Linked DNA regions of Homo sapiens. The protein of the gene in region 1 purifies or fractionates together with the protein of each later gene. This does not show direct contact. Each region holds a gene or a part of one and is shown on either strand. Other genes may lie near its edges.

What was found.
Region 2: the proteins of CKM (region 1) and PALM2AKAP2 purify together in Homo sapiens (affinity purification with mass spectrometry; 3 studies listed by BioGRID and IntAct, with this or other methods). This does not show direct contact.

The regions. Positions count from the first base shown.
Region 1 is NC_000019.10:45,305,790-45,313,039, reverse strand, and holds the end of CKM (creatine kinase M-type), read left to right. Parts: intron 1-1,119; coding exon 1,120-1,291; intron 1,292-4,507; coding exon 4,508-4,631; intron 4,632-5,389; coding exon 5,390-5,579; intron 5,580-6,111; coding exon 6,112-6,290; 3' UTR 6,291-6,627; downstream 6,628-7,250. UniProt on the Homo sapiens protein: Reversibly catalyzes the transfer of phosphate between ATP and various phosphogens (e.g. creatine phosphate).
Region 2 is NC_000009.12:110,168,175-110,173,276, forward strand, and holds the end of PALM2AKAP2 (PALM2-AKAP2 protein isoform 3 (PALM2-AKAP2)), read left to right. Parts: intron 1-224; coding exon 225-323; 3' UTR 324-4,338; downstream 4,339-5,102. UniProt on the Homo sapiens protein: Binds to regulatory subunit (RII) of protein kinase A. May be involved in establishing polarity in signaling systems or in integrating PKA-RII isoforms with downstream effectors to capture, amplify and focus diffuse, trans-cellular signals carried by cAMP.

The DNA.
Region 1 (7,250 bases):
ATATGCACAAACACAAATTCATTATACACATATTTTATACATGAATATACAAATAAACACACAATTTTTTTTCTTTTTTTTTTTTTTAGACAGAATCTCACTCTGTCACCCAGGCTGGAGTGCAGTGGCAAAATCTCAGCTCACTGCAACCTCCACCTCTTGGGTTCAAGTGTTTCTCGTGCCTCAGCCTCTTGAGTAGCTGGGATTACAGGCGTGTGCCACCATGGCCGACTAATTTTTGTATTTTTAGTGGAGACGGGGTTTCACCATGTTGGCCAGGCTGGTCTCAAAATCCTGACCTCAAGTGATCTGCCTGCCTTGGCCTCCCAAAGTGCTGGGATTATAGGCATGAGCCACTGCGCCCAGCCTACAATTTTTTTTTTTTTAAAGATTGGGGTCTTGGGCCAGGCGCCCAAGTGGAGAAACCCCGTCTCTACTAAAAATACAAAATTAGCCGGGCATGGTGGCGCATGCCTGTAATCCCAGGTACTTGAGAGGCTGAGGCAAGAGATTCGCTTGAACCCGGGAGACGGAGGTGGCAGTGAGCCAAGATCGCGCCATTGCGCTCCAGCCTGGGCAACAAGAGCAAAACTCCGTCTCATAAAAAAAAAAAAAAAAGATGGGGGTCTTGCTATGTTACCCAGACTGGACTCGAACTCCTGGGCTTAAGTGATCCTCCTGCCTCAGCCTCCCCAGTATCTGGACTACAGGCTCGTGCCAGTGCACCTGGCTACCATTCTACTTTATAATAATTTTTACTAATGGCCTCTCAAAGTCCTGAGACTTCAGCCATCTGTGTTGCCAGCCATTAGGAGCAGGCACCAGCACACTGTGGCCTGCAGGTGGATTGGATGTGAGGGTCCCTCAGGGGAAGAGGTGGGTCTGTTTTCCAGATTGAGCACATGGGGTGGCCATTCCTGGGGGCCTGGACAGATGGCAGGAACAGATTTTGGGGAGCCGTCACAAGTGTGGGTTTAGACACAGGGTTCAGGTGCCTTTAGGACATCCAGGGGGCCAAGGCCCAGGCCCGTTAGGAGCAGCAGCAGGGGAAACCCTGGGCCTCCACACCCTGGTTGAGGTGGGACAGGCTGCTGACCACTCCCTCGTGTGTCCCCATAGCTCTCAACAGCCTGACGGGCGAGTTCAAAGGGAAGTACTACCCTCTGAAGAGCATGACGGAGAAGGAGCAGCAGCAGCTCATCGATGACCACTTCCTGTTCGACAAGCCCGTGTCCCCGCTGCTGCTGGCCTCAGGCATGGCCCGCGACTGGCCCGACGCCCGTGGCATCTGGTGAGGCCCCTCCCCGCCCCCTGGCTTCCTCTTCCCCCAGCCTCCTCCAGTCCTGCAACGGCCCTCCTCACTCCTCCACCAAAACCAAGGCCATATACGTAATTATGATCTTCTAAATGCCACGGAAAATGATCTTGCCCTCCGCCCCTGCCCATCCTGTGGTCTGTGTGTCAGATTTTGGGATATCTGGACCGGAGAAGTGGTAGTTAAAAACTTAAGACTTGGCGGGGCACGGTGGCTCATGCCTGTAATCCCTGCACTTTGCGAGGCCAAGGCGGGGGGATCACTTGAGGTCAGGAGTTTGAGACCAGCCTGGCCAACACGGTGTCTACTAAAAATGACAAAAATTTAGCTGGGCGTAGTGGCAGGCGCCTGTAGTCCCAGCTACTTGGGAAGATGATGCAGGAGAATCGCTTGAACCCAGGTGGCGGAGGTTGCAGTGAGCCGAGATCGTGCCACTGCACTCCAGCCTGGGCGACAGAGCCAGACTGTCTCAAAAAAAAACAAACAAAAAAGAAAGAACTTAGACTTGGCCGGGCACAGTGGCTCACACCTGTAATCCCAGCACTTTGGGAGGCTGCAGCAGGAGGGTCGCTTGTGCCCAGGAGTTCTAGACCAGCCTGGGCAACATAGGGAGACCACGTCGCTACAAAAATTAAAAAAAAAAAAAGCCAGGCGCGGTGGCTCACGCCTGTAATCCCAGCACTTTGGGAGGCCAAGGTGGGCGGATCACGAGGTCAGGAGATTGACACCATCCTGGCTAACACGGTGAAACCCCGTCTCTACTAAAACTACAAAAAAAAAAAAAAAATTAGCCCGGCGTCGTGGCAGGCGCCTGTAGTCCCAGCTACTTGGGAGGCTGAGGCAGGAGAATGGCCTGAACCCAAGAGGCGGAGCTTGCAGTGAGCTGAGATCGTGCCACTGCACTCCAGCCTGGGCGACAGGAGACTCCGTCTCAAAAAAAAAAAAAAAAAAAAAAAAAAAAAAAAGCCAGGCGTGATGGCGTATACCTGTGGTCCCAGCTACTCGAGAGGCTGAGGATCAGCTGGGCCCAGAGGATTGAGGTTACTGTGAATCATGACCGAGGTACTGCACTCCAGCTACCTGTCTCAAAAATAAGAACTCAGACTTGAACCGTACTCCCTAGGTTCAAATCCCAGCTCTACCATTTACTAACTTTACTAGCTTTGTGACCTTGGGCAACTTATTTTATTTTTCTCTACCCCAGTTTCCTAGCTATAGGATAGGGATCACAATAATTTGTAGTTTCTGGTGTTCTTGTGAGGATTAAATGAGTTAATTTATGTAAAGTATTAAAAGCAGTGCCTGGGCCAGGCGCGGTGGCTCACGCCTGTAATCCCAGCACTTTGGGAGGCCAAGGCGGGCGGATCACGAGGTCAGGAGATCGAGACCATCCTGGCTAACATGGTGAAACCCCGTCTCTACTAAAAATACAAAAAATTAGCTGGGCTTGGTGGCAGGCGCCTGTAGTCCTACTTACTCGTGAGGCTGAGGCAGGAGAATGGCGTGAACCCGGGAGGCGGAGCTTGAAGTGAGCCAAGATCGCATCACTGCACTCCAGCCTGGGCGACAGACCAAGACTCTGTCTCAAAAAAAAAAAAAAAAAAAAAAGCAGTGCCTGGTATACACTAAGTGTTCAGTACATCTTGGTTATTCGTCTTATCTTTATTATAAAGTATTATTGCTAGACTTGTTTTGACTCTTTGAATCCCTGATTCAGATAGTCAAAGATTTAGAGAACCTAGGTTTCAATCGATGAAGGGAGCCTGGGTGCTAAGATATACAGATGGGATGATTCTAAGATTTCAAGATTTTAAATATTTTTAGGTTTTAAGATTCCACTCATTTATTTATTTATTTATTTTGAGATGGACTCTCACTCTGAGGCCCAGGCTGGAGTGCAGTGGGTTGATCTCGACTCACTGAAACCTCCATCTCCCGGGTTCAAACGATCCTCTCACCCTCCGCCTCCTTAGTAGCTAGGACGACAGGCATGTGCCACTGTGCCCAGCTAGTTTTCGTATTTTTGGTAGAGACAGCGTTCTGCCATGTTGCTCAGGCTGGTCTCGAACTCTTCACCTTAAGTGATCCGCCCACCTCAGCCTCCCAAAGTGCTGGGATTACAAGCGTGAGCCACCATGCCTGCCCTCAGGTTTTTTTTTTTTTTTTTTTGAGACAGGGTCTTGCTCTGTTGCCCAGGCTGGAGTGCAGTGGTGGGATCATAGCTCGCTGCAGCCTGGACCTTCCAAGGTCAAGTGATCCTCCCGCCTCAGCCTCCCCAGTGGCTTGGACTACAGGCATGTGTCCCACCATGCCTGCTAATTTTTTAAATTTTGTAGATATGTGGGTCTTGCCATGTTGCCCAGGGTAGTCTTGAACTCCTGGGCTCAAGCAATCCTCCGGCCTTGGCCTCCCAAAGTGCTGGGATTACAGGCATGAGCCACCACACCCGGCCATTTCCGGATCTTAATATTTTATGTTCTTTTTTTTTTTTTTTTTTGAGATGGAGTCTCGCTCTGTTGCCCAGGCTGGAGTGCAGTGGCGCGATCTCGACTCACTGCAAGCTCCACCTCCCGGGTTCTCGCCATTCTCTTGCCTCAGCCTCCTGAGTAGCTGGGACTACAGATGCCCGCCACCATGCCCAGATTTTTTTTTGTATTTTTTAGTAGAGACAGGGTTTCGACGTGTTAGCCAGGATGGTGTCGATCTCCTGACCTTGTGATCCGCCCGCCTCGGCCTCCCAAAGTGCTGGGATTACAGGCGTGAGCCACCGCACCCAGCCTTAATATTTTATGTTCTAAGATCCTGCTTCTGAGATGCTAGGATTGGGAGCTAACACACTACGATGGGAAGATTTTCTGGTCCTGAAACCAGATGTAGGATTACCAAGTGTTATCAGTTCTGATCCCAAGCTTCTGTTTGTCAAACATCCTGAGATCCCAAGGATCTATAATAATACTGTTCAAAGACTTAAGTCCCTAAAAGTCCTTGATCCCAGGATTCAGCGTTTTGCAGATCCTGTGACATTAGAGTCTACAGGTTTAAGCTTCTGCGTTTTGAGGAGGCAGATGCCACCCACCTCCCACCCCTCAGGCCCTCTTCCCCCATCGGTGGGCAGATGTTTTGGGGGAGGGCTGGGAATGGGGTTCCCACGGGGCTGACACCTTGGCCTCTTGCTGCGGCACCTTACTCTAGGCACAATGACAACAAGAGCTTCCTGGTGTGGGTGAACGAGGAGGATCACCTCCGGGTCATCTCCATGGAGAAGGGGGGCAACATGAAGGAGGTTTTCCGCCGCTTCTGCGTAGGGCTGCAGAAGGTGGGTGTCTGCCCTTAGCTGCTGACTTCTGACTCCACCTTGAACGCCCCACCTGCTTTCCGAGGCCCCGCCCCTTCCCCTATACTAAGCCCTGCCCCACCCATTTTCCAGGGCCCTGCCCCCCGGACCTGGCTCCACCCCATGCCAAACCCCGCCCCCCAAAACTAGCCCCACCCGCTTTTCAGGGCCCCGCCCCTGGACCCAGCTCCACCCTATGCCCAAGCCCCGCCCGTAAGGATCCGCCTTCAGGCCGGGAGCGGTGGCTCACGCCTGTAATCCCAGCACTTTGGGAGGCTGAGGAGGGTCAGGAGTTCAAGACCAGCCTGGCCAACATGGTGAAACCCCGTCTCTATACTAAAAAATTAATAAATAAATAAATTATCCAGGCGTAGTGGCGCGCGCCTGTAGTCCCAGCTACTCGGGAGGCTGAGGCAGGAGAATCGCTTGAACCTGGGAGGCAGAGGTTGCAGTGAGACGAGATCACGCCATTGCACTCCAGCCTGGGTGACACAGAGAGACTCTGGAAAAAAAAAAAAAAAAAACCCGCCTTCAAAGCGTTCTTAGTCCCCGCCCCTCAAAATCCTGCCTTGGTCCCCATTGTCTAGCCAGCACCCTCGGAATCTCCTACCTCCCTGTTCCCCTCAGAATCCCACCTCCACCACGTTCCCACGCCCTGTCCCTCCGGACCCTGTCCATGTTGCGGGTGCATTTGGGGGTGCCTGCCGGCGCTGACCCCTGGTCCTCTCTCTGAACCTCAGATTGAGGAGATCTTTAAGAAAGCTGGCCACCCCTTCATGTGGAACCAGCACCTGGGCTACGTGCTCACCTGCCCATCCAACCTGGGCACTGGGCTGCGTGGAGGCGTGCATGTGAAGCTGGCGCACCTGAGCAAGCACCCCAAGTTCGAGGAGATCCTCACCCGCCTGCGTCTGCAGAAGAGGGGTACAGGTACGGCTCCCACATCCTTTGCACCACGACGGAGGGGGAGCGAGGGCCCTTTGCAGGGATGCAAGGAGAGGTGCGACATCCCTGCGAGTTCTGGGGATCCGGCAAGGGCTGACCCTCTGTGAGCTTGCATTTCTTCCTCTGTAAAATGGGTGTCAATATGCCTATGTGATAGGAGTCAATGTGGGATTTTCATGATTATATAATATGCATTGCACATGCCCTTGGACCTCCCTCGGGGCCTCAGTTTCCCCATTTATAAAGCGAGGAGTGGTCAGGATTCGACCCTAGGCCGCCTGGCTCCAGAACCCACTCTCTTACCCACTATACTATGTTTGATAACTGAGTGGCGTGGTACCCCATCTGAAGTCAGAGACTCGTGAGCTCACGAATGAACAGGCATTACCTGTGTGCAGGTAACCTGTTACACAGTAGGCACTCACTACATGCGGCTGTTGCATTTGGCACGGGGGCCACGTCCCAGCCCCTCTGCACCTTCGCTGCCTCTTCACGCCCCTGTCCCTTGCTCCCACAGGTGGCGTGGACACAGCTGCCGTGGGCTCAGTATTTGACGTGTCCAACGCTGATCGGCTGGGCTCGTCCGAAGTAGAACAGGTGCAGCTGGTGGTGGATGGTGTGAAGCTCATGGTGGAAATGGAGAAGAAGTTGGAGAAAGGCCAGTCCATTGACGACATGATCCCCGCCCAGAAGTAGGCGCCTGCCCACCTGCCACCGACTGCTGGAACCCAGCCAGTGGGAGGGCCTGGCCCACCAGAGTCCTGCTCCCTCACTCCTCGCCCCGCCCCCTGTCCCAGAGTCCCACCTGGGGGCTCTCTCCACCCTTCTCAGAGTTCCAGTTTCAACCAGAGTTCCAACCAATGGGCTCCATCCTCTGGATTCTGGCCAATGAAATATCTCCCTGGCAGGGTCCTCTTCTTTTCCCAGAGCTCCACCCCAACCAGGAGCTCTAGTTAATGGAGAGCTCCCAGCACACTCGGAGCTTGTGCTTTGTCTCCACGCAAAGCGATAAATAAAAGCATTGGTGGCCTTAGCTTTGTGCGATAGTTATTGAGGGAGGACGTGCAATTGGCCACTGTGTGGTCTCAGAGTGGTTTGTCCTGTCTAGGCATGTACTAAACATGTCTTATCCCGGGTCTAAAATGAGGCAAAGTTAGGTCACAGAATCTAGTCCAAAAATTAGAAGGCTCTATGGGGAATCTGAGACCCAGAGAGACACTGAGCCCAGTGTCACTCACCCAAAGCATGGGCCCTTTCCAACTATGGCTTTGAATTAGTCATGCTCAGATCTCAAACACGAGGTCCACGCTGGGGAGGAATGCAGCCAAACGAAATGTCTGAAACTTGAATTTAGCCCAACGGTCTCCAGTTTTGAGACCTCCCATGCAGCTCGTCACATCTACCTATATTCTGCTTCTCAGTGGCCTCCTTCTGTCCCGTCTGACTTCATCCCTCTGTAGCTGCTGCCAGTCCCTTACTTTCTCAAGAACCTGCCATGGCTCCCCATTTCTCCTAGAAAGCTTTTCTGTTATTTTGCAACTCAAGGCCACACTGAAATGCATACCATTTGCTGGAGGCTCACCTTTCCAGTTCTTTCCCCATTACTCCTCTGATTCTTTCACACCTGACACCCTCCAATTCCCACCTCAATGTCTT
Region 2 (5,102 bases), on another chromosome or scaffold:
GAAAACTAGGGGTCAAGTAGCAGATGAATACTGGCTGTGAGATGAATGCATAACCAGAACCTCCCATTCCCCTTTTTCCAGCGTCTCTCCTATCTCCCAGCAGTGCTTTATCACTTTCTCCTCTCAAGTTGATAAAGAGAAAGGAAGAAAGAAACAGAGAAGTCGGTTTATGTTCATAATTAACATCCATGAACTCTGCATAATTTTTTCCCCTCTCTTTACAGGTCCTCGAGGCCACACGGGTTAATCGAAGAAAGAGCGCACTGGCTTTGCGCTGGGAAGCAGGGATCTATGCCAACCAGGAGGAAGAAGACAACGAATAAACTTCCTTCAACCCAGGAAGCGTCTTTGGTGCTTGGGAGACCAAGAAACCAAGAAATTAACAACTGAAAGCATTTTAATGGACTATTTATTAAAGTGCAAACAAACTCAGCAATCCTTATGTAGACCAGAAGCTGCAATATACAATGATGAAAATGAAACGAAAAGGAAGTCCCCCCATCAGACTCTGGACACCCAGGAATCAAAAGAGAAAGGACTTTTTTGGTGACTCAATCCCAGTGTCTGGTTTGGGGCCAATCTACAATGGATCCAAAAGGACAAAACATGTTACAAGCAAATCAACATAGTTGCTGCAGGCGGAACTGAGACCAGCCTCTCTGGGCGATGAAGGACAATGGTGGTAGGGCCACTTAGAGAGCAGTAGGGCCCAGGCTGGTGCAGCCTACATGGCACAGGATATTTCCCTGCACCAGTTTCCCACCTGTCACTTGCAGCATCAGAGGGTGTTGCATTAACTCCATTTTCTCCAGCAGCCATAAAATGAATGGCGTTTCTCTCCATATTTGCCCAGAAGAGGCAGTTATGATTCCACTTCTCCTACATTTAATTATTTTTAATTGAGAACAACTCATGATCACAATTCATAAAATCCATATTTTAAGACAATAGTTCTTCATGTCACAAACACAATCTATTCTACATGAGGAGGCTGAGAAAGGGGAAGAGAAAAACAAACCAAATGGATGATGTTAGCTTTAGGATCGTGTCTGCTTATAATATTCACTGATCTGCAGTTTATGAGAACACATTTTCACAGTTATGTTTCTTCATAGGAAAACTATATTTAGTGGGCAACAACTATTTTTATGATGGGATGGGGGAGTATATACACGTATAGAATCTGTACGCGTTGAACAACTTGGTTCAAGATGGTGGGGGCATTTTTAGAGCGGCAATAATTGAAAAAAAAGGCGAACTCTGCCTTGGAGAGGTAGATGATAAGAAATAAAAAGGTGTTTATAACTATTTTGTATTATAAAGTGGGCCTTAGAGATAGGAAGAAGAATGATGGATTCCTTTTGGATCAATCAGAAAGGAAACACGAAAGAAAAGTCAGGAAGGTAGAGAGAGAAAAAGGGAGGGAAGGAGAAAGAATGGGAATAAAATAAGGAGGTAAGAGATACTATTTTTGCTGAGCAACCAGTGTGTTTCAGGATGATACAAAGAAAAATATAGAATAGAAATAAGTGCAGGCTTGGAATCAGCTACAAATCCTAAAGATGGGGTGTGTGTGGATGTGTGTGTGTGTGTGTGTACACCATTGTGTGTTTGTAAAATGTGTATGTTCATGAGTAAGGGTGTGTGTGTGTGTGTATTAAAATTCCAGAGTGACCGTGGCACTTGGGTGTACAGGTAATTCCTCCAGAGCTGTTTGCTGGCTTCAGGAGTGGAGTGAGAATTTCTTTTTTATGAAAAGGGATATAAAGGCACCGAGCTGATGCAGTATTTGTAATATTAAGTTGACCTAACAAGGTATTTGCATGAGTCACAATTACAAAGTTTTGAGCGGTTTTGTAATTTGACATTTAGGAGAGTCTCCTATTTATTCTCATACTTTACATTCATGCTTAGTATACTATAGAGGATGCCAGCTTTAATCTTTCTGTCATTTAAAGCAATATGATAAGGGTATTCAATAATTGGGTGCCCTAAATTTCTGGATGAGAAAATTTTCAATTCTGGCCATGAGAAAGAAAAAAAAATAAACAGCCTTCTTTTTTTTTCCTTTGTTTTAAAACTGTGGTTTTTTAAAAAAGCAATAATTAACTCAGACCTCACTAAAAATCATTTTTGTTTTTATATTGTTATGTCATAAGCTCTATTATGTTATTCTAACAAGTAGCAATTTCACAAAATTTGTATGTAGATGTTAACGCACATTTCCTTTGCTTCTTTTATTAGACTAGTGTTGACTTTGGGGGGGGACATTTATTCACAAATGAGAAGTAGGCACAAAGTAAAAAATGGAACCATCTACTAACAAGGATCCTTTAAAACTGCCAAGGGAGCTCTAACTTGAAGCCACATCCTACAGATGGCAGCCCAAATAGCACATGGGCAATTGGCACCATCTTTATATGGTTGAGTCTCCTGAATATTTTGAATGAATTCTCAACAAAATGTGCTAGCCACTGGGGACGCAAAACAAGTAAGATCCCTGTTGCAAGAAATTCATTTTATAGTGAGGGAGGTTGGCATGGAGACTAAAATTCTCAGGAAAATGAGATCCGTGTTAGATTAGAAGTCCTGATGTGAAATGGGAGGACTCAGGAAGGAGGATCGTCTTTACCTGAGGATTTCTAGCCAGAGGTCCCAGATGCCTGGGCTGAGAACCCAGCGATAAGGGGGCGTTCCCAAAGCAGACACAGGGATAAGAACAGAGGAGGCAGCAGCATTGCACAGCCCCAGGCACAGTGGCAGTTAGGATGGCTGGAGAGTAGGATAGTTCTATGGGTTGCCCAAAAAATGTGATGCGCTTCATGTTTTCTCTGACTCATGGATCTGGTAGAGACCATAGACATGATATAGACTAACTTCCCCATTTTTCACAAGAGGAAACCATCCTTATGACTTACCTTAAAGTTTTTTGTTCTGTTTTGAAGGAAACCATGTGCTTCATGAAACCTACAGTTGACAAGAGAATGTACAGCTAAGAGAAAAGCTTAAGAGGCCACACTATTCGCGGAATGGCTTTAGAGGCAGATGAAGTGGTCTTTGACCACAGTTGATTGAACCAGAGCACTTATTGCTTAAAGAATAACAGAGTTCTAGAGCTGGGGGTTCTTGGGCCATGCTCCGTGTGTGGATAAGGAAAGAAATACTGTTTCTGGGACTCTCCCACAGTCACAAAGCTGTTTTCACTGTGGCCCCTACATCTCTTAACTTTTGCTATTACTCCTATGCTGCCTTCCGGATTACTGCTGTCTATCTTCTTGCTCCACTCACTGAAGATCCTATTATAATCCCATGAAAATGTAAATTACAGTTTACTTGGGAGAGCCAGATTTTCTCTGTGCTCTTGAGTTTTTTATTCATTCAAGAAACCTTGGGCCACCGCTTTGTACATAGCACCGTGCTAGGCTCTGGGATCCCAAATGGACCCTTTTAACTTTCTGAAGATGGGACCGTCCCCTGGAGGAAAGTCATTCCTGCCTAATCCATCGAGAGAAAGAGGCTTACGAAAAACTTTGCCTCTGATGCTCAGCCCCACCCCCAAATAGCACACAAGCTTGTTAACCCCACCTCTTACAAAATGTTTAGATTCTGTAGGTGTTAAAAGCCTTTCTGGAAGTATTGCATTCTGCCGTGTTTATAGGTGTTCACTTTCCTCCAGAGCTGATTAACTACTGACATGACTTGGCTTTCTCATCCAGAAATTATGGAAACAGGGTCTGTCAGTGGCAGGAGGCCGTGCTGTGTTTTACTTGGATGACACAATGCAGTTTACTTGCCTCTTCATACCCATGCATGCTGCTCACCCTAGACAATGACATATAAGCCGTATATAGATCAATGTCCACATATATATACACACACACATATATATATATAAAGTGTAACAAGGAACACTAAAACAGTGTTGATTCTTGTCTCTGAAGACAAATAATTAAACCTTTTTTTTCCCAACTAAAGAATGGATTTAATTAAACTATGTATTGAAAAAAAAGTAGCCTAAGTGTTAGAGATGGTGAATATATTCCATTTTAGTTAAAGAACAAATTTCCTGAATTTTAAGCATTCAGTGAGCTGCCAATTTTGATTTTGTGTTGCTCTTTACCCAAATTATTTTTTCTTTGTTTTTCTTTTTTTGGGGGAGGAGGGGAAAAAAGCAGCAATACTGTGTTTGGAAATTATACTCTGTATCTGGTTTTCCTGTGTATGTTAACCACTTAAATGTTATTATCCTGCTTTGGTTTTAGAGTGATTGTGAGGCATTCAATGCAAGTATACAGTTATTTTCTCATTAAAATCCAATGTGTGTTGAGTTTTTATAAATAATGGCTGCTTGTTTGACCGTGAGGGAGGTTGGAAGACTGGGCCAAACAGTGGCACGCCAGCGTCCTACTTGGCCGCTACTGTGTGACAGCTTCTGGTTCCTCATGTTTGCAACAAAGGAATCAATCCGAGCTGAGGGGGCACTGCTGCACCAGGCTGTTCCCACAGCCCCCTTTTCAATGCTGTCCCCAGCCACCCTGGCTAGATGCCAGAAGCTGCAAGTGCCTCTTAAGGACATAGACTCGAAGCCACAGCAAGAGCTGGACAAACAGCAGGACGAACGGTAAACTCCAGCCTTGCCTGTAGCTTTTGGCTCTAACCTTTAGAATACATTATGAGCACCGGCCGGGCGCGGTCGCTCACGCCTGTAATCCCAGCACTTTGGGAGGCCGAGACGGGCGGATCACGAGGTCAGGAGATCGAGACCATCTTGGCTAACACGGTGAAACCCCGTCTCTACTAAAAATACAAAAAATTAGCCGGGTGCGGTGGCGGGCTCCTGTAGTCCCAGCTGCTCGAGAGGCTGAGGCAGGAGAATGGCGTGAACCCGGGAGGCGGAGCTTGCAGTGAGCCGAGATCGCACCACTGCACTCCAGCCTGGGGGACAGAGCCAGACTCCGTCTCAAAAAAAAAAAAAAAAAAAAAAAAAACCACATTCTAAGCACCTGTATTTGGCTCTCCTCTGCAAGGAATAGCTGATGGCTACATGTTGACATGAAGGACTCCTTTTGTTGTATTCAACATAAAGCCCCTTTCCCCAAACT